Regions from separate parts of the Homo sapiens genome. Here regions 2, 3 and 4 are each linked to region 1. Evidence: fine-mapped expression QTL. A gene starts in region 1. Each other region holds a variant in brackets. All regions are shown on one strand. Distances are from middle to middle. Region 1 holds the start of CD47 (CD47 molecule). Region 2 overlaps CD47 (CD47 molecule). Region 3 has its middle 73 kb from the start of LINC00636. Region 4 holds the start of LINC01215 (long intergenic non-protein coding RNA 1215).

What was found. PIP is the estimated chance that this variant, and not a neighbour inherited with it, causes the effect. A credible set is the group of variants that fine-mapping cannot tell apart.
Region 2: its variant is the best candidate, but not a certain one, in a credible set for the expression of CD47 in tibial artery (GTEx, PIP 0.67).
Region 3: its variant is the best candidate, but not a certain one, in a credible set for the expression of CD47 in lung (TOPMed, PIP 0.66).
Region 4: its variant is the best candidate, but not a certain one, in a credible set for the expression of CD47 in whole blood (TOPMed, PIP 0.55).

What each region holds. Positions count from the first base shown.
Region 1 is chr3:108,087,976-108,093,242 of GRCh38, reverse strand. CD47 (CD47 molecule) reads left to right here and starts at 2,212. Exons shown (of 11, transcript NM_001777.4): 1 at 2,212-2,380. The coding sequence starts at 2,335. RefSeq lists silencers at 1,599-1,658, 1,669-1,718, 1,739-2,488.
Region 2 is chr3:108,062,424-108,067,690 of GRCh38, reverse strand. All of the region lies in intron 3 of CD47 (CD47 molecule), which reads left to right. Among named protein-coding and RNA genes, the nearest start is that of CD47, 26 kb to the left of the region's middle. The variant A/G (reference allele first, on the strand shown) is at 2,258.
Region 3 is chr3:107,953,597-107,958,863 of GRCh38, reverse strand. No RefSeq gene overlaps it. Among named protein-coding and RNA genes, the nearest start is that of LINC00636, 73 kb to the right of the region's middle. RefSeq lists a silencer at 4,835-5,035. The variant C/T (reference allele first, on the strand shown) is at 2,251.
Region 4 is chr3:108,123,705-108,128,344 of GRCh38, reverse strand. LINC01215 (long intergenic non-protein coding RNA 1215) reads right to left here and starts at 3,281. Exons shown (of 2, transcript NR_110030.1): 1 at 3,203-3,281. RefSeq lists enhancers at 2,269-2,368, 2,869-2,948, 3,169-3,218, 3,499-3,638, 3,709-3,758 and 2 more. The variant G/A (reference allele first, on the strand shown) is at 2,693.

The DNA of each region.
Region 1 (5,267 bases):
ATATAGCTAATGTGTACTTCCTGTGTTCAAAACATTCTAATATGTATTATCCCCTCCCTCTCTACCCAAGAAACTCCTTACATACAGATAAGATGAGCTCAACATCCAAATTAAAATGCTTTGAAAAGTTAAAAGGCAAACCTTTAAAATGATTAAATACTGAAAAGAGCTTAAGGTTATCTCAGAGAGAGGATAATCAAACCTAGGCAGGCTGCTTTGGACTGTCTCTCCTGGGATATGCCTGCTTTTGCCCCACCACCAAAACATACCCCAGCTAGATTCCCAAGAGCAGCAGTGGTCACCCAGGTGGCCTCTCATTCCATTTTCTGCACAAAAAGACGTTAAGCATATAGCTCAGTAGCTCCCAGTGTAAAACAGAACATCACCCGATCTCCACCTCTGAAGGTTGGGGACAGTCCTTTCTAGTCACTCTTCAGCTTTAGGGGGGTTGGTTGGTATCAGGGACAGCTGACAGCCTTATTTAGCCAACCAGCTGCTCTGTGATACACAATGTCCCTAATGCTCAAAGTCTGGTGGATGATTCTTTTGTATCCACATAAGCAGCAGTTGGAGGAGAATCGATGAGTCCCTTTGGTTGCCTCGGGGTGTCAAGGCTGCCATTCAAATCATTACCACCATAATTATTAACCATTGTTTTAGTGAGATGTCTGCCAGGCAATTGTTTTTATTTTTCAATCATTAAAAAAGCAATCAAATTTCACTAGAGCAATGCCTGCCTCACGCCGCATCAACACATTTATTAAACCCCTTCTGTTTGCCGAGCTCAATGGAAAGTCTTGGAGGAGGGAATACTTAAAATGCTCTCGGATTTAAAAGAATTGATAATGCTGTGGGGAAGAGGTTCACACAAAAAAGCAATTACAGGAAGAAGCTCGATAGTATACAATACACTGGTACAGAGTGTCATAGACAGTGCCACTTTCATACGCTGGATTTTATTTCTGTGGCAATGGGATGCTTGGGAGGAGCCGCACTGTGTAGAGGATTTGGAGAAGTGGGGTATTGTGGTGGGAAATTGCTTTCTTTCCCAGGAGGTAGGAGGAAAACAATCAAGGAGGTGGACAGGATGTGCACTCCATTAGAGCAGCCACCAGAGCCTGACTTTTTGATAAGAGAGTACATCAGTTAGGATAACGGTTAAAAGTATCTTTAAAAGACTTTTGCTTCAGGATGAATGATGTGGCCTGTGTGATTCAGCGATAAATTCAAAAGCCTTGTCCCTATTGTGGCTTGCGGCCACATTTCGAACCCATTTTTCAAGCATGTTAAACCCAAGCGCAGCGCAGAGGGCTGCACATGGGGCAGTCACAAACCAAGCTCAATAACCTTGCTGGTGGGGATGTGTTGGATACGCTGCTAATGCCTGTTTGCGACAATGCTCGCTAGTCCCGGTGGTGGCGGTGTTCACAGGTAACAATGTTTACCACCGTGAATGGAACTTGTTTGATTAACCCTGATCAGAGGATGAAAACACTAAAGAACCAAGTGAGAAAGAGGGAAGAGAACCGCATAGGGAAGAGCAGAGCGAGTAGACGAGCCGAACGCAGAGCCCGCGAGGGGCGAGTGGAAGCTCCCTGCGGGCAGGTACCCGACCACCGCCCTGCCCTGGGCGTGGCGGCCTCGGGCTCAGGGACCGCTTCGGCGCTAGACGGCCGCGTCCGGAGGAAACGGGCGCTGGTGAAAGCCTAGGTGTCCTGGTCCACGCGCGCAGCCGGACGTCGGGTCCAGGGAGAGACGCGGGCTGGGGCGGGACGGGACCCGGCCCCTGAAGCGCGAGGGTGGGAGTGAAAGCAAAGAGGAGAAAAGTAGAGAGAGAGGACAGTGGGGCCCAGCGCCGCGCGAAAGGCAGGAACCGACCCGCGGACAGGAACGGGTGCAATGAGGTCCCCGGCGAGCGTGGGAACACAGGGTTCAGCCTCCTGCGGCGGGCGAGCACGCGGACCCCAGGGGCGGGCGGGTGCGACAGGACGTGACCTGGAAGCGCGGCGCGTGCCACCGCCCTGGAGCAGGCATCCGGCCTCCGTGGAGCGGGCAGGCGGGCCCCGGGTCTGGAGCCTGCGACTGGGGAGGGCGCCGCGTCAACAGCAGCGGTTGCGGGGCGGGGCCGAGTGCGCGTGCGCGGCTCTCGCGGGCGGGGAGCAGGCGGGGGAGCGGGCGGGAAGCAGTGGGAGCGCGCGTGCGCGCGGCCGTGCAGCCTGGGCAGTGGGTCCTGCCTGTGACGCGCGGCGGCGGTCGGTCCTGCCTGTAACGGCGGCGGCGGCTGCTGCTCCGGACACCTGCGGCGGCGGCGGCGACCCCGCGGCGGGCGCGGAGATGTGGCCCCTGGTAGCGGCGCTGTTGCTGGGCTCGGCGTGCTGCGGTGAGTGGCTCCTCGCTCCCAGCCCTGCGGCTGCTGTCGCTTCGCCCCCGCGGGCGTGTGGGCTGCGCCCCAGCCAGCCCGGCGGCGCCCTGAAGAGGGTGGCCGGGGCGCAGAACACTCGGGCCCTGAGCGCCCGAAGTGCAGACGTGGGAGGGCCCCACGGGGAATCGGGCGCCCCCCTTCTTCCTCCCTTCCTTTCCCTGGTCGTCTTCTTCCCCCTGGGTGAGAGCGGGGCTCATCTCCTCCACCCGGTTCTCCATCTCCAAATGCACACACACAGGAAGACTCCAAACCGCGCACCTCGCGCAAAAATTAACTAGCAAGAAAGGGCGCGATCAGAGGCAAGGGGCTGCAGCTGCTAGGGATCCCCTTCTTTCGCACCCCTCTCCCTTCTCAGTGCTTAGACGCATTTGGGGTTGAGGGAGGGAGAGTGGGAGGGCCCGGGCCTCTTGCGATGGAAGTGCGCATTTTGGCGAAGTCGGTGAGAAGGGGTTTCTGCCGTTTGCCTCCCACATGAACATAGGAGCGAAGAGGACGTAAAGGACACAATTAAGTTTCATTTTCAACTCAGCATTCAATCAGAAGAATCTTCCGGCCGTGTAATTTTTGCTGTCGTTTTTAATCCTAAAAATAAGCTTGCTGGAAACTCTTCCTTTCTCGTGACCCTCACGCCCCATCAGCCACTTGCATACATTCTAAATTGTACGTTGAAGTTTTTCCCACTTTATTTGGGGGAACCGTTTTAAAAGTAATCTGGTTTTCGCCTGAAATAGGAAGACAGTAACCTCCAGTCAAAACATGTGCAGCAGAATGGGATTTGGTGTTTTTCGACGCCAAAGAACCTCCACCCCCCCACCCCCACCCCGAGCTTTTGGAATCCATTTCGCTTTTGTAAAACGTGTGCTTCGTCTGTAAAAACTGAGCAAGGAATAGAAACATTCGTAGCTCTACAGTGAGTGCCTGTCACACTTCACATCCATAGAGCCTTTTGTGAACTTTTATAAGATTCAGAATTCAGCTTGAGCACCAGTGACAGCAATTGTTACATTTATTCTAGAATGCTAAATTAATTCGATTTTAAACTGATTATTAGCCTCGGTGTGCCGTTCCTAAAGGCTTGTGACTTTAGGTATTTCCAAGATGCCCTTAAGTCTCTGCTTACCACTTTCCTCCCTCCCCGAGCATCCTGGATGTTGGGACTGTGAATCCAGGTCTCCGTTATCTAAATGGTTGATGTTAGTGTTTCCTGTCATCACGTTTAGTATGCTTGTTGCCTTTACTATCATTATAGCTAAAATAATACTGCTTTCAGAGATGTGTTGTATAATCGCATAATAATTTCAGAACGCCTTCATATTGAACCAGATATGAAGTGATACAGTATCATTTATTCAAACTGCCTAAAAAGTAAAAAGTATAAACCATATACTATTTTTAAAACAGGTAGGTTAGATTTAAATCACGTAGTTTAGAACTGTTGGAATGGTACTTTGAGTGATAGGATTTATGTTAGGCCTTCTTTAGTAATAGTTAATATCATGTAATTAGCACTCGTTTACACACAATTTTAATGTGTTCGAATCCCTAGAGTCATCGAATTCAGAATTTATAGTATTTTATTTTACTTAGTTAATATTAACCTAAAAAAAAAGCAAAATACAGGCATTATGCAGTTGAGTTGTGTTAAGTGTGGACTGTAAAACAGGATAGTATTTGTTATAAAATATGTTTTTGTATGTGTTTAATATATAGCTTCAAAAGGACATGTATGAAGAAAGATGTCTCAGCACATAGGTAGTTATAAACCAAGGGTTTGAGAGACTGACTTTAGAATCTAGAATGAGTAAGAAAGTGATGGATCTGTACATTCATTTGTATTGAAGTTTGATTTTGCTTTCAGTTTCGTTAATTAAGCCCCGGGAATCAGGGACCTTTCCTGGCACCCTCTACAGTGTTAGTGGCCTTTGTGGTAAAAGAAGTTATCTCAGATACTCATTTCATGCAATTACAGGCAAACTGGAAGGCACCTTAATGGTATGCAAGATGTGAAATGAATTACTATGTTGCATTCCACTCTGCCCCCACTCATGTACAATTATACTTTGTTTAAAAGTGCATAGTTTCAGTGGTATTTATTAGCTAGCAAATAAAACTTTAAATAAATAATGATGGTGTTGTGAACTGTCTTTTCAGTGGTTGAATGATTCCTCTTTGTTCAAAATGAGTTGTTTTTTTTTTTAAATCAGGGTACATATGATTAAATAAAATTTTTTTCCATCGTCTAAGTCTAGTAGTAATTTGGCTTGTTTAAATAAAAATGTTTTCTCTTAAAGAATATATTATTTTTAATTACAAGTTGCCATTTTAAGGAAGTAAATGCCTATTTAAAAGTACGTATTTATGGGGCCGCCCCAGCAGTCTAGAGGCAGTGTTTTTTAAAGCATTACACTAAATGCCTACCATTAGGACACTTGCTCATGCTGTCATCTGTGTTTTGGCAGATGTTTTATCTTTGTCACTGAGTTGTTCATGGAGATTTGAAAGGCCAAGTTCTAAAGATGAGAGATAGATGACTTTCCCCCCAAATTGATACATATTCTAAATCCAAAATAATCACGCATATTCGCAAAACTAGATTTGCATTTCATAGTATGAATTCAGCTATAGCTAGTATATAGGCATTGCTTTTAATATAGTAATGTTCTTTTTGTGGCATAATTTTCAATCACTTTCCCTGTCTTAGGTTTCTGCCTACCTTTTTATACAAGATAAACATTTCTATTTTCATATCTTATCTCTCAGTCTGATTTTAATAATATCGTCTTGGGTTATCATAAAGTTACTTTCACTTTGTATACTAGTGTAGATATTTCTTCTGTGATAAAAA
Region 2 (5,267 bases), 26 kb after region 1:
AGCAGAATCTCTATGCTTAGCAAACAGCTCAGAGATTGCTAGAATCAAACACCAAGGCTTAACTGATAGTATTGAATTTCAGACGCTTTGTTTGTGTTCTGAAAACTACACCAACTCACAGTTTGCCACTCTACTGACAATTAAGTTCCTGGCTGATTTTCAGGATTCTTCTTTCTCACTCTGATATCATTTTAAGTGCTGTCCACCTAGTCCTCCAGTTCCTGCAGGATTAAGGTCCAACTGTATGTAAAGAACTGGCTAACATTTTGAAATTCTTTGAGATAGGCCTATCTGTTCTTTCTTTGCCTTTGTAACTTTGTTTTATACAGGCAATACTGGCTTCGCACAAAACCGCAAGACCATAAACATGACCATGTAAGCTGAAATTCTGCAAAACAATCTTCATGATGAATGGGAAAAACTATTATTATATTGTTCCATGACCTTTAAAATTTTTTTTGTTGTTAAAACCTTAAAAACTCTGTTATTATCAATAACAACGGCATTGGGAAATGAAAAATAGTAAAGCTAGTATTTAGTATGTGGTAAATTAAATCATTAGAAACATCGAGAATGAAAGTGTGTTATCAAGAGTAGTTTGAACAACACTTGTGTGTTCTTCTTGCATAACTTTGGATACAGAGCAAGCATCTTCTCTATGGCTTGGTGAATTGTCATACCCCTTTCTAAGTTTGGATCGGTTTCTACCGTTTTATCCTTTGCACTCTCAATGTCATGAAAGAATTCCTTTAATGTTTTTTTGAATGTTTAAAGTTTATTTTATTGCCAGTCACTTCCTCTGGGACATCTTTATTCTTTTTGTTACATCCTCCTCACTTTCCTCATTTATATCAGTAAGTCCACCTTCGCTGAGTTCTTCTGGCTTCATCTCTAGAGTTTCTTGCATTGCAGTAATGTCGACATTCGCACAATCAGCTATTTCTTCTCTTACTCCATTTATGGTCTATTCAAATTTCACTCCTAGCATTTGTCAGTTTTTATTTCTTTACTCTTTCATCTTTCTTGCCTAGTTTCCTCTTTTGATTTATCCATTATAAAATGTCACATGGGTTTATCACTGGGAAACAAGGAGGTAACAAAACTCCATACTTTGCTGTCTGTGCATGACCTAAATATCAGATGTACAGTGACTAGTCACCAACAGTCTTCAAAAGAAGTGACATGGTTGATCACTGATCATGATGGGACATCTGCTATTTACATAGTTATTTTTGAACTGAAGAAATAGCAGTGAAGTTGTACTTTATGCAGTTACTCAGTTAATATATTGTGGTAATTGAAATTTGGACTGTTTATGAGGGATTTATTTGATTAAACCATGGTAACTGGAATTCATATCAGAATAGTGCAAAGTGAGGACTGCTGTACTTGATTCCAAATTTAAAACTGTATTCTAGGCATCTTTAATTTTTTTTTTTCAACTTTCCCCTCCCTGCTCAAAATTACTCCACAGAGATTTTGGTTACGGCTCAGATGTCTTTGAGTAGATGTTCCTGTAGAAATCATTGTTAGAAAATTCAAGGAAAAAAGTTCTCATTACACTACCTTGAGATCCTACCAAGTCCTTGAGTTTTGACTTGAGGACAGCTTAATAATGAAAGTAATTCAGCCATGAAAGCATATTTAAAATAAGTAATGGAACAGGAAATTTCTTCATAGATTAGAAAAATTATTCTGAAAAAGTGAAGACATAGCCTATCTTGGACTAGGAAATTTCCATCCAAGAAAGTAAAATATACAATAAATATTATCACAAAGAATCATTCTGTGACCTGGTTGATGGCCCCTGGTAATAAGACTTTGTTATTAAGTTTACTGTGAATTCTTTTTTTTTTTTTTTTTTTTTTTTTTTTTTTTTGAGACGGAGTCTCGCTCTGTTGCCCAGGCTGGAGTGCAGTGGCGTGATCTCGGCTCACTGCAACCTCCGCCTCCCAGGTTCAAGCGATTCTTCTGTCTCAGCCTCCCGAGTAGCTACAGGCTACTGGCGTGCACCACCATGCCTGGGTAATTTTTGTATTTTTAGTAGTGATGGGGTTTCACCATATTGGCCAGGCTGGTCTCGAACTCCTGACCTCGTGATCCGTCTGTCTCGGCCTCCCAAAGTGCTGAGATTACAGGCATTAGCCACCATGCATGGCCCCTTACAGTGAATTCTGTTCAATAATCTTGAACTCCCAGTGCTTTCCCTTGGTCCTGTCCATATAATGATCACATTCTGTTATTAAATAATGTGCTT[A/G]TGTGCTGATTTTATTGTAGGAGGAATTGAACAAATCTATAGCTCAGCATTTTACTCTTTTGTAGAAATCCCTTGACCCTTTCCAAATCCAGACATCACAACCTTCTCCATATACTCAAAAATTGTGAAATCCACAAGGCAGGGAAAGTTGATAATGAAAAAAAGGAAGTTTGGTCTGTTGGACATCCTCTTCTTTCATCTTTTATGTTCAAAGTACTTGATGCACAAAGCCTGGACTCTTTTATCTCTGTCCTATAGACTGATGTCTAGTCAGTATTCATTGTGACAAAATTGTTTCATTAGAGCAAGTTGGATAGTGTATGGAGATTATTATAAAATGATTTAACTTGTCTTCTGTCAAGTAATTTTATAATTGGTATTAATGTTCATTTTTTTCCAGTACCAGTTTCAGAAGCTTTCATTTGTGTATGCATGTGTGTGTTAAATAAGTGTATTAGATACTTGAAAAATAGTAATTTAAATTTAAACAATTTAAAAAATGAAATTGTAATTTTATGTGTAAAGGTGTCTGATGTGCTTTATTCTGCACTGAAAACAATATTCATTTACAGCTCAACAGACACCAAATATATTCTAAAATTACTTTCCTAGAGTTATCAGAAAACAGCACTGTAATAATGAAATCAAACCCATCTTTCTTTATGATTTATTCTTAGTCTGATACGCATCAGCCTGGTAAGCCTTCCTGTCTCTCTGCTTACTTACCAATCACTCCAAATGTCATGTCTTTGGGCAGGCATTAAATTCTTGGGTTTTGGGTTTTGTTGGATGGACTGCAGTCTGTGTGAGCCTATATGGGTGTGTCAAATCCAGTCTTTGGGGTGTCATGGAAACTTAGCATGATAGACTTGATTTTATCCCCAAGTTGACTTGGTAATTTCATTAGATTTCATCAGTCACAACCTGCATTTTATCTTGTATGTGCTGTCTATTGGTCACAAAATCAGAAAACCTTCTTGTCCATTCATAACATTAGCTGTTTTTTCAGGTGGCTAGAGGGACATGTCATTGCTTCATCTGCATGAATTTGAAAGATTAAATGCATAAAGGAATTTTCTTAGAGTAGAGTAGGCCTTCACCATCTCTTTAACTGGGAAAGAAGTTTTGGGAGTAACATACTCATCACTCACACCCCCCTCCCCTCAAACACACACACTCACCCATTAGAATGTAAGGGCCTTGAGGCAGGCCTTGTGTTTGCTTTTCGTGTTCACTGTCAGCATTTAGAATAGTGATAGTCATATAGATGGATAGTGCTCAATCAATTATTGTCAAATAAAGTAATCTACTTGTTCCTTGATTTAGACTAGCAAAAGGGGCTGGTACATTGTAGGTACACAGTAAATATTTGTAGAACAGATGAATGAACCAACCCAACAGATTTCTTAGAAGTAGCCTGCTTTTGGTTACTAATTATTTTATAGAACATATAAAAGAAAATTTTAGAATACCTAATTTGTTCACAAAAATGTTATATTGTCTCCCCTGATACTTGGTATTCCTGTGTCAGGCTGAGCACTAAGGTTATACATTTTTTGTTAAGCATGTAATTACTGTTATTTCTCATGTACTTTATTTTGTGTATTGATTTCAGTAGTTGTAGCTGAGGGTAATCCTTAAGAGCATGCAGATTTTAAAAATTACATAGATTGCCTTGCCAAGCCGTCTGAAAGTCATACTAGAAAATTTGATAAGAGCCTGCTGTTAACAACACATTGAGTTATTTTTATCTTAATGCTAAGTGGAGAATTACTTGAATTTATTTTTTTTGCTGCATTTAATGTTTTGATACATTCAATAAATAAGGATAAATCCACTTACTGAAGGACAAGAAAAGATCAATAAGAGATCCTTGAGGTTATTGGGTTCTATGGCATCTATTATATCAAATTCCTTGCCCTTTCACTATACTGAGAAATTTGACGACTGGGCTAGCAACAAGATACCTACCCCACATTAGCTGTGGTACCTGCTGAAATGTGACCATGTGAGCAAAGAAAATGAGCCAAAAGAAACTCTTTCTGAAGATTCACTGAAGAAAACCTGGAGATACTCTTTCATTAGTAGACCCCACAGAGACAGGTGGAGTGTCCGTTATCCAGAATGCCTGGGACCAGAAGTGTTTTGGATTTCAGATTTTTTCACACTTGGGATCCTCAACATGTGTATTTGTTGGAAATGGCTACTTAATTTAAGGAAAAGTTTAAGGTGGCCTGGAAAATAAGTAGTAGTTGAACTAATCAACAGGAACCAAAACTACTTTCAATATATAGTGTACTTATACTCAAAGAGAGACGGACCATTTTATGGTGGAACCCTGTCTATGGTAGTATTTTGTGATGTTTTATTTTTGTTGCTATTGTTTGCACTGTTTTCTCCTATAACAGCTCTTCTAAGCCTTAAGAGGATAAATTTTATATGAGATTCAAACTCTTATTTTTGTTAAGAAGGATGTAAGTCACCAGGCATGGTGGCTCACACCTGTAATCCCAGCACTTTGGGAGGCCGTGGCAGGTGGATCATGAGGTAAGGAGCTCGAGATCAGCCTGGCCAACAATGTGAAACCCCGTCTCTACTAAAAAAAAAAAAAAAAGAATTCAAAAATTAGCCAGGCCTGGTGGCGCATGCCTGTAGTCCCAGCTACTCGGGAGGCTGAGGCAGGAGAATCATTGAACCTGGGAGGCAGAGTTTGCAGTGAGCCGAGATTGTGCCACTGCACTCCAGCCTGGGTAACGGAGTGAGAGACTCTGTCTCCAAAAAAAAAAAAAAAGAAAAGAAAAAGAAAAATATAGAAGAAGAACATAAGTCAACCTTTTTCCATGAAATTATACTGTACTCTAAGGCAAATTCTTGTTGCTTGATCTTAGTAGCTTTTTTATGCATTGACTTAAACCTGGAAGAGTTTCTTATGAATGTTTGATTGACTGTGAGGTGCATTTGAAACAGCTTCTACTTTATAACCCTTTGCAGAACTTTCAAGCTCTATTTA
Region 3 (5,267 bases), 130 kb after region 1:
TCTGTTTCTAAGTGCATGCAGTATCTACTCAAATCTGTATTGGAAAATTACACTGTAAATGCTTTGTAGGCTTTTTTTTTTTCTTACTCATTTTCAGTCTCTCACAGTCTCTCACTTCTTAATCAATTCCTATTTTCTCAACACAGACTGCATTGCCACCAAGCTATCAAGTAATAACTTTTTTAGAACTCAGAATGAAAAGAAAAAGCCCAACCAAACAAACAAACAAGAATGAAGCTTCAGGAACCCTTTTCTCCTGTACCGGTACACGAAGTCATCCATCTCTGCCACAGTGGTGGTTGAATTCAGATAGGCACCTGATATGCTGATTGAAATTTTTTAGTTCAAGGTTTTTTAAGAATCTAAAATAAATTTCCTTTTCCTTGTCTTCAGGAAAGCCTACAAGTACCAAATCCAATTATGAGAAAAATGTAATTTCCCTTTTGGTCTATGACACAGCACAACAGTTATCTGTGGATGTTTAAAAAAATGCATGAAGTAGGATTCTCTTGGTTCACACCAGATAAAGTCCCCAGGAAAGTGATCCATAGTTGGCATCATTTGCTGACATTCATGTGTGATTCAACACCTCTAGACAATGATTTGGGGGAATCTGTTTTTCTATTATAAGCCAGACTTTGTCTTCTTGATAGAAACTGAAAGGATCAGCATTCCCAGCTTTTAAAGTAGATGCTTCCTGTGAGACCCAGCGCCCAGAAGCCACTCACAGACCCTTGCGGGTGTCTCTTCACATGCTGTTCAGTGCCATTGTAGAGATGAGGCATCCAGGTGACTGACGAATTTCTCACTTGTCCTCTGGCTGCTTTTGCATCTGTGGATACAGTCTCTGTATTTATAGGCGTGATTAGATTGAGAATTCTTGGGTCAACCACTCACAGATTGTATCAAAAACAATCAATCTAGTTTGACTGTCTTAACATTTTGGCTATTTTTGTTGTTAAGGCAAGCAGATCTGATGAAGTGTTCACTCCTTAGTTTGATGTTCAGCAATTGTCTGTCATGGTTCTGAAGTTGGAGGGAAAAAAAAGTAAAAATCAACTGTCAAAACAGTCAATCCAGTCGTGAATTTCTCCCTGACACCAGAGAGCATTGCTTCTCTTCTCCCTCCCCCTTTCTTCCCTCCTCCTCCTCCTTTCCTTGGGTCTGTCCCTCCCACAAACAGTTTCTCTTCTCCAGTGATGTTGATAAAAGGCAGAGAAGGAAGATATTTTAGGTTTGCAAAAGCTTACATTCTCCTCAAAGATTTCCCTTTCCTTTGTTTCGATGTTGATTATCTTTTGCTATTGAGTAGTACTGAAAGGATGGCTACACTGTATGTATGGAAAATGTGTATCTTAATGGAGAATTTAGGCAGAAGTGTCCTCTGCTTTCTCTTTCAAGATGAATTCCACTTTTCAGGGCGCACAGTTCCAAAGCCAGTGAGAGGGAGGCGGCTGGCTTGCAAAATCCTTTCCTGTCCCTGAGCCCGCTCCAACCTCCTTGGAACAGAAGAGCTCTGAGTCTGGCCCTGGTGTGGGATGTGGCTGGCTTTCCAAGTTGGGAAATGTGTTAGTAATTACTTTTTACTGCTGTCTCCATTTGTGTTTCCAGACTTTTCCCCCTCAGCCGGTGTTTTTCTCCACCCAGCTTCCTATGTCATTCTCACTGCTAATCTAACCTTGGCTCCTTTCCTCCAGAAACGTTTGACCTTGTGCAAGAACTTGGCATCCACTTCTGTCCTCCTTCTTCCCTAGAAGGGAAGCGCTGGACTGGGATCATTAGCATGAGCAGGCAGTGCTGCCAGCTGCCCGCCTGTGTCCTCTGGGCTCCGGCTGGTACAACAGTAGCCCCCATTTTCTGAGCAAAAGGGTGGTGGCCACTGGTTGTCAGGAGACCTTGTCCAACATTTTGTTTCAAGATGGTGTTACCAGGGATGTGGACTAAGTAATTAGCTCCTTTAATTGAAGGAACTTACAGGAAAAAATGTAGAAGCAATAAAACCTCTTTAGTTCACACATCCTTGCTTTGGATTTGAAAGAGCTCAGTCGATATTTTTTATGAAGACATGATACTCTGCATTAATTTGAATCTGGAAAGGGTTACAAGGAAACTGGGAGTTGTTTAACCTGCTTAAGAGAACAAACTTTGCAATCACTTAAGAAATGCTCACATTTCTTCCTTCTGTTGATAAGCTGATTACATACCACTTTTATCTTTCCATTAATTAAGTCCCCAAGGACAAATACCATG[C/T]ATAGTTTTATAACTGAAATACCATCATATAGATACTTGAAATTAATACTACTTCAGTTCTTTAAAAATACTCCACAATTCCATATTTTCACTAATTCAGTCCAAACTTTCTTGATTAAACTGAACAAGTGTGATTTTACCATATCTGTTTGTGAGTGTATGTTCCTGGAGTTTATAGAATATAGCTATTTTTGTAAAATGCCTTAGGTTATAGGGATTTGGTATAGAGCTGGAAATTGGTTGCGTAGGGATGGTGATAGAAGCTGAGGGTGGGAACAGTGACTAGTCATTTACAGTACGCATTCAATATAACCCAGACTATGAAGGGGTATACGAAGTACAAAATTGTGGATAATCTATTCTATTCCTTTATTTATTGGACGGGGAGAGGGAAGAAACTTACAGGAGGGAGCAACTGTATGGGTCCAAGTGATAAGGTCTTTATATATTAGGAGATTCATATCCAGAGATAGGATTTCTCCATCTCATTCCTCTCAGATAAATGAAAAATCGGACTGTTTTTCTGATAATGAGATTTTTCCCTACCCCTACGTTGGAGGACTAGCTTTTTAGTTCAACATAAGCTTTCAGTAATGCAGTATACTACATATGGCCAGAAAGAGTGGATGTGGGAGCAAAAGCATCAGCTCTAGAGCTAAAGCCCTGGCTTGCATACTGGCTTTCCCAGTTATAAGCTGTAAGATCTTCAGTGTATAAATTATAGTAAGTCAAAACTTTGTCGTAGAAAAATACGAAGATACACGTAAAATTTTATTATTAATGAGGGAAGCATTAGGATTTTAAAATTGATTCCAGAATCAAAAAGACTAAATGTATATTTACAGATAGATAAATAGGTAGATAGATAATGTCCTCTGACATTATACTTTTTATTGAACAGAAATCATTTGCATTTTTATCAAACAAAAATCTACCAGCTAACCACAGATTCATAGACTCTCGTCCTAATCAATAGTAAACAGTAAATCAAACAAAGGTGTAGTCTCCAATAGAATTAATAATCCCCTGGGCCCAGTTTGATATTGAAAGGATATATAGGCATCTTTTTGCCTATTTTCAGGTTTGAGGTAATGTTTTTCAACAGGAGGTAGGGCAAATTACTTCATCTCTCTGAACCTCTGAAAAAAGAATATAACAACATCTACCTTACAGGTTGCTGCAAGATTAGCAGAAAATCAAATATCTAAAGCACCTCCCATGTCAACCTAAATAGCAGAGAGAGGCTCTCTAAAAGAAAATTATGTTTATTTGGGAATCGAGTATTGCAATGGGAATACACGTGCCATAGTAAATTATATGCGTATTAAGGGAAGTAAAGGGAGACAAGGGTTTTTAAAGAAGAAATGAGGAGGACTATTACAGAATTGTTTTGAGGCAATTATCCTTGGCTACAAAAATCAATAACAAGGTGGCGCCTGTCTGAGGTTGACAGGCAGTTGCTGGGCAGATGTCCTTGCAGAAGTATTTTTTGTGTAAGGTTATGGTGGCTTTTGCACAAAGTTGTGGTTTTTGCAGAGTCTTTTGTGGTGGTTTTATTTTTGGGCATACGAGCATGAGAACCCTCTCTTCATAGCCTTCTCCAGCTATATATGTTAGGGTTTTTTGTTTGTGTGTTGGTTTTTTAACATGACTGACTCCATTCTGATTCTGACAACTTTCACACCTACAATACCTCAATAAAGGGTAATTCTCACCTCTTCCTGTATTCTCCTTACTCCAGGTTATCTGACATTTTGCCAATCAGTTCTCTTTCAATTGGTGCTTTCACATATAACCAAAATAATAACTGAAGACTATGATGATAACACTGAGATTCTTCGCAGTCACTGTGTCATTACAGATAAAACTGTGTTTTCAGCATAGTATCAATGTTAGGTGTAATTGATTATGGTCTGCATTAAAAAAAAAACTCATTATCCATGGACATTGACTTAGTTGAAACAAAATAGTTAACCAAAACCATATCTTCCAGATTATTAAGCATAAAGGAAAATTCTAGCAAGGGTTTTTACCTGGAACACCAACTTGAATTCAGAAGTGCCTTTGTCAAGCAGTAGATTTGAACAAATGTTCTCTACATCTCCTTCCTATTCTAGGATTTTATAAAAAATGTGTAGAAAGGATACCTAAAAAAAATAATATGCAGAAAGGAGAAAGCCCATGCATTTTAATCACCAGGAAAAAGAACTACAATAGTGTATTAAAAATAATGAAAGTGGTGATCATATTTTTATTTCTTCAAAAACATGTAATTATGAACAATTACAAATATATACAAAATTAAAAAAAAAAACACTCAGGTACCCACTACCCAGATTTAACACATCTTAACATTTTGCCATGTCTCCTTAAGGTTTTCTTTTTCTTTTTTTTTTTTCATAAATAAAGAAAATAAGATAAAGCTAAACCTCTCTTCCTGTCTATTTCCTCCTGTAAACACATCTAATAGCATTAATTTAAGCGTACCCTTAGAATGACCCTATCTGGCAGATGCACCTGAATGTGTGCTCTGAGTTAGAGAATCCAGGAGTGACCAGCCCAGAGATTCATTCCTTGTCTATGAGGAACATCTGAGCCCCCTGCCTGTCCCATGGAACACGGGCTGTTAGGGAATTGAGGCCCTGAGTTTTGGGTTAAATGAAGGTTGCCAGATAAAGGTCGTTAGGGGGAGGGTATTAAGTGAAGATGCCGTATCAGCTGCATGCTGTTTGCAAGTGGTTGTGGTTTTCCTGTCCAGCCCACCACCACTTGACAGTATGTAAGCCTCCAATAAAACCCCATGTTTTGTATGTAAGCCTCCAGTAAAACCCCATGTTTTGTATGTAAGCCTCCAGTAAAACCCCATGTTTTGTATGTAAGCCTCCAATAAAACCCCATGTTTTGTATGTAAGCCTCCAGTAAAACCCCATGTTTTGTATGTAAGCCTCCAGTAAAACCCCATGTCTTGTTTGCTGGCTCCCAGTCTCTTCTTCAGCCTCTTGAATCTGGTGCCATCC
Region 4 (4,640 bases), 35 kb before region 1:
ATACAACATGACCAAAGAGGCAAAGTGCTAGGTTGGCTTTTGCATCAGAGAATATTGATTAAAATCCCAGGCACAAATCATAGAGTGGCTTCGAACTAGTGTCTTATTCTTAAGGTGAGGATGATCATGGTGATACCTGATGGGACTGTGTGAGGATTAAATGAGATAATCATGAAGTTGATTTCTAAACTATTATGCACTGTATTACTTTTAGTTGTCACTATTATTTTATAATTTCAAGCAATTTTACATATCAATTACCAGCTGATTAATTAACATTCCTTTATAAATATTTATTAAGCCTTCACCATGTAACTGGTACTGGTCTAGGAACTGAGGAAGGCAAAGTTCCTGCTCTAGTGAATCTCAGATTTTCTAAATTAATCAAGTAAATATGAGTTTCATTTAAAATAAACTAAGCAACAGGTCGCTAACATAGGTGGTCATATCTTTGCTTGGTTCGATTCTAATAGCAGCTTGGATTCGTCCCAGGATTTGTCTTTGTTGATCTTTCCTGCTGAACTACCTTTTCTTTCTTTCGGTTTCACCATCCTTGATGCTGTGAATCCTGCAGGGAGCTAACAGGCTGGTGTGATAGCTTCTTACTACACCTACAGCTCAGCGAGTCCCGCCACTTGCTTTATACACTTTGATTTTTCTCTTTGCTTCTCTCTCCTATCTGACCCCCCTTTTCCTGAACACTTGCTGCCCCCTATTTCTCTTTTCTTCACTTTTGCTTTACTTCTTTTGCTGCCCCATTCCGTGGGAGACCCTATCTCTGTTTCTTCAGGTGGCCCTGTGGGTGTGAAAGAACAAACTTCTGGGCAGGCATACACCAGTGGTACACCAGCGGTACACAGGAAGACACCCCTCCCAGGAAACAATACCTCTGCCTCTGACACTTCCGGGAGCCTTGTAGCCACAGGAATCAACACATGTCTCTGCAACACTTCAAATTAACTCAGGCCTCAACAAGGCAGAGAGGGGTGTAGCCATACAGGCATGATCAGGGCCAGCTTATCACCATTCACTGGGAGACTGGCTGGAATGTGGATGTGCCGAGTGAAAAGTCAAATGTCTGCCTAATAGCAGAGCCCTCCACTCTGAAACACAAATGGCCCACTACATTCCTCACTCATAATTTTTAAAAATTTTTTAAAAAAATCTTTTACCCTAATGTCCAGTAGGCTATTGAACACTAGCTATCAATTTTTTGCCCTATGCCCTACAGTTAAAAATAAATGGCCAGGCAGGGTGGCTCACACCTGTAATCCCAGCACTTTGGGAGGCTGAGGCGGGCAGATCACAAGGTCAGGAGATCGAGACCATCCTGGCCAACATGGTGAAACCCCGTCTCTACTAAAAATACAAAAATTAGCTGGGTATGGTGGCATGCCTGTAGTTCCAGCTACTTAGGAGGCTGAGGCAGGAGAATTGCTTGAACCCGGGAGACAGGTTGCAGTGAGCTGAGATCATGCCACTGCACTCCAGCCTGGGTGACAGAACGAGACTCCATCACAAAATAAACAAATAAATAAATGTGTGTGCATAAATATGTACACACATATACATATGTATATTTTATATACACAAGTATTTGTATATCTAAAACCAGTTTCACAAAACAGTACCCTCATTACATGCATAGCTCAAATTTTTTAATTTCTTTATAATCTAGTTATCTTAATAACTTTTTAAAATGCTGGTTTTGACCTAGAGATTTTTAACCTTGTGTGTGTGTGTATATGTGTTTGTGTGTGTGTGTGTATCTGTTTGTGTGTATGTGTGTGTGTGTATGCATGTGTGCACGTGCCATTTCTACCCCATGTGATGAAGCCTATGGATCCTTTCTTGTAGTGTTTTTAAATGCATAAAGCAAAACTCTTAGGCTTACAAAGGAAATCAATGATATTGAAATACAATTCTATCCTTGGGCCTCTTGTGGGGAAAGGGCAGTGTCCACAGACCCAGGTTAAGAATCTCTGCATGGGTAAATTGATTTCCCAGCTGACTGCTGAGCCACAACCTGCAGTTTGGAAAATAAGGCTGTACAAAGCCTCAGAACATTTTGTTGTAGTTAAGTATTTCAGATGCTTATTATCCTGTCACGGTTTTAACCCTCTTTTCCCTCCCTTTCCCCATGCTCCCTCTATCCAGTCACCCACACCCCACCACATGCACATGCATGTGTACTCACTTACATGCATGCACATATATGTTGCCACATATCCACATACACATAGGCACACACATGCACAGGCACACACATGCAGATCTTAGGTCACATATCTGGAATGAGATGAGGCACTAGACCACTGGGTCCAGCCCCTCCTGTGACCCCAGTCCCACTCCCTGACTGCCTCTGTGTCACAGCTCCTCTGGCTCCTGCCTCAGAACTACTCTAGTGGCTCATTATCTCTGCAGGGCAGCGCTCACCATCACGACTTTCTTGTTTTCTTTCACAGCATTGTGAGCCAATAGGTGCATTCTGCCTCAGAATAGTGGTGGAGACTGGTGGTGGCACAGCCCAGAGCTCTTGACGTTTATTTTCTCAGGCTTCAGTGAACCTTCTGTGGCAGGTGTTTCCTTTTGATAGGCGGCAGTTCCTCCCTGGGTCACTCCAGCCTGCAGCTGAAGCCCTCACTTAGCTCACTGTGGCTGTACTGAACACACCACCTCCCAACATGGAGCA[G/A]CCTAGCCAGGGGGTGCGGGAAGGAAAGATGGTTGCTGCCACAAATGAATGACTCAGCTACCTTCTCCAATGGTTTGATATTGACGTTTCCTCCTGTCATAGCAAAAATGCCCAGGTGAACTGTTTTCTCCATCGCATGTAGAAAGATGATGGTTGTCTGAACTGGTTCCAGGTAATGGACAGTGGTAAGCGCTCCCTTCTCTTATAGTATGTTATGGATTGAAGTGTGTCTCCCCACAAAAAGATATTACTGGAGTCCTAACCCTGAATATTTCAGAATGTGACCTTATTTGGAGATAGTGTGTTTACTGAGGTAATCAAATTTAAATGAGGTCATTACAGTCTCTAATCCAATAAGACTAGTGTCTTATAACAGAAACGAACGCTTACAGAGGGAAGACAATGTAAAGAGACACATGGAGAAGATGGCTGTATTTCCATTCTCATGCTGCTATAAGGACATACCCAAGACTGGGTAATTTATAAAGGCAAGAGGTTTAATTAACTCACAGTTCAGCATGGCTGGGGAGGCCTCAGGAAACTTAGAATCACGGCAGAAGGGGAAGCAAACACGTCCTTCTTCAAGTGGTGGCAGGAAGAGAACTGAGTGAGTAAAATGAGGAAAGTCCCCTTATCAGATCTCCTGAGAACTCACTCACTTTCACGAGAACAGCGTGAAGGTAACTGCCCCCATGATTCAATTACCTCCCCCGGGTCCCTTCCATGACACGTGGAGATTATGGGAACTACAATTCAAGATGGGGTTTGGGTGAGGACACAGCCAAACCATATCAACAGCCATCTGTAAGCCAAGGAGAGAGGCCTGGAACAGATACTTCCCTCGCAGCTCCCAGAAGGAGCCAATCCTGCCGACACCTTGATTTCAGACTTCTGGCCTCCAGATTGTGAGACAAGAACAGCAACTCGGCCTGTGTTCTCTGCCCTTGAGGTTGAAACAGGGAGCAGAAGGTTTTTTTTCCCCTCTGTGTTGCAGCATGGAGTTCTGAATGACAGATGAGGGGTTGATCACCCTCCACACCCATGCTAAGCCTTATGGCTTCACGGGGTTCAGGCTTCCTGTGTTCAGTCTTCTGTGTTGCCAGAAAAATTTGCATACTCCCATGGACAAAGAAAGCAGCAGAGGAGAAAGAAGAGCTTTCATTCACTTCCTCTTTGGGGTGAGAGCAAGTCTGAATGCTCTAGAATTGATTCTATTAGAAAAACTCTCTGACCCCAAATATGAATATTTTCACCACACCCAATACTCATAATTTTAAAAATAGATCTTTTGAGTTTCATCCTGACTAGTAACCTAAAGATCACTGACTTCTGATTTATTTTTTTATCATGCTCTACAGTTAGAAATGCAAACATATAGACTAGAGAGGGCCACAGAGGTGTTTGATCCCATCACTTCATGTAGGTAGGAAGATGTTGAACCCCTGAGAGGGGTCGGAACTTGTCCAAGATCACACAGCAGGCAGAGTACATCAGGACCTCAAACCCATATCTTCTGCCCTCTCCTCCTAAGGTCTCCATCACTAACACCCTGTCACGGTCCATCCTGCTAAGGAAGTCTCTACTATAAAATCCCATACCTTGAAAATTAATTGTTTTTCCACTCACACGTTACCACCCTTCCCTCCTGCAAACATTTGGAAGTTGAAAGGTCGCACAGCCTTCATGAAATTAACCAGAAGAATTGAAAGGAAGCTGATGACAAAAGTACTTCAAAATCTGTTTTTCATGAAAACAGCTTTTTCTTTTCCCCCTCAGATCAAACTGAATTTTTCTTTTTATTTTTGCGGTATTCTTCTAATTGTGCCTTTTTAAATGTGTTTGAAATAGTTCTTTGTTTCTGTAGATTAATCACCTTTCAATGCTCTCCTTTTTTAAAAAAAACAAAATTTTAAAACTTTTAAATAAAATTTTCATTTGTTAACTCTCA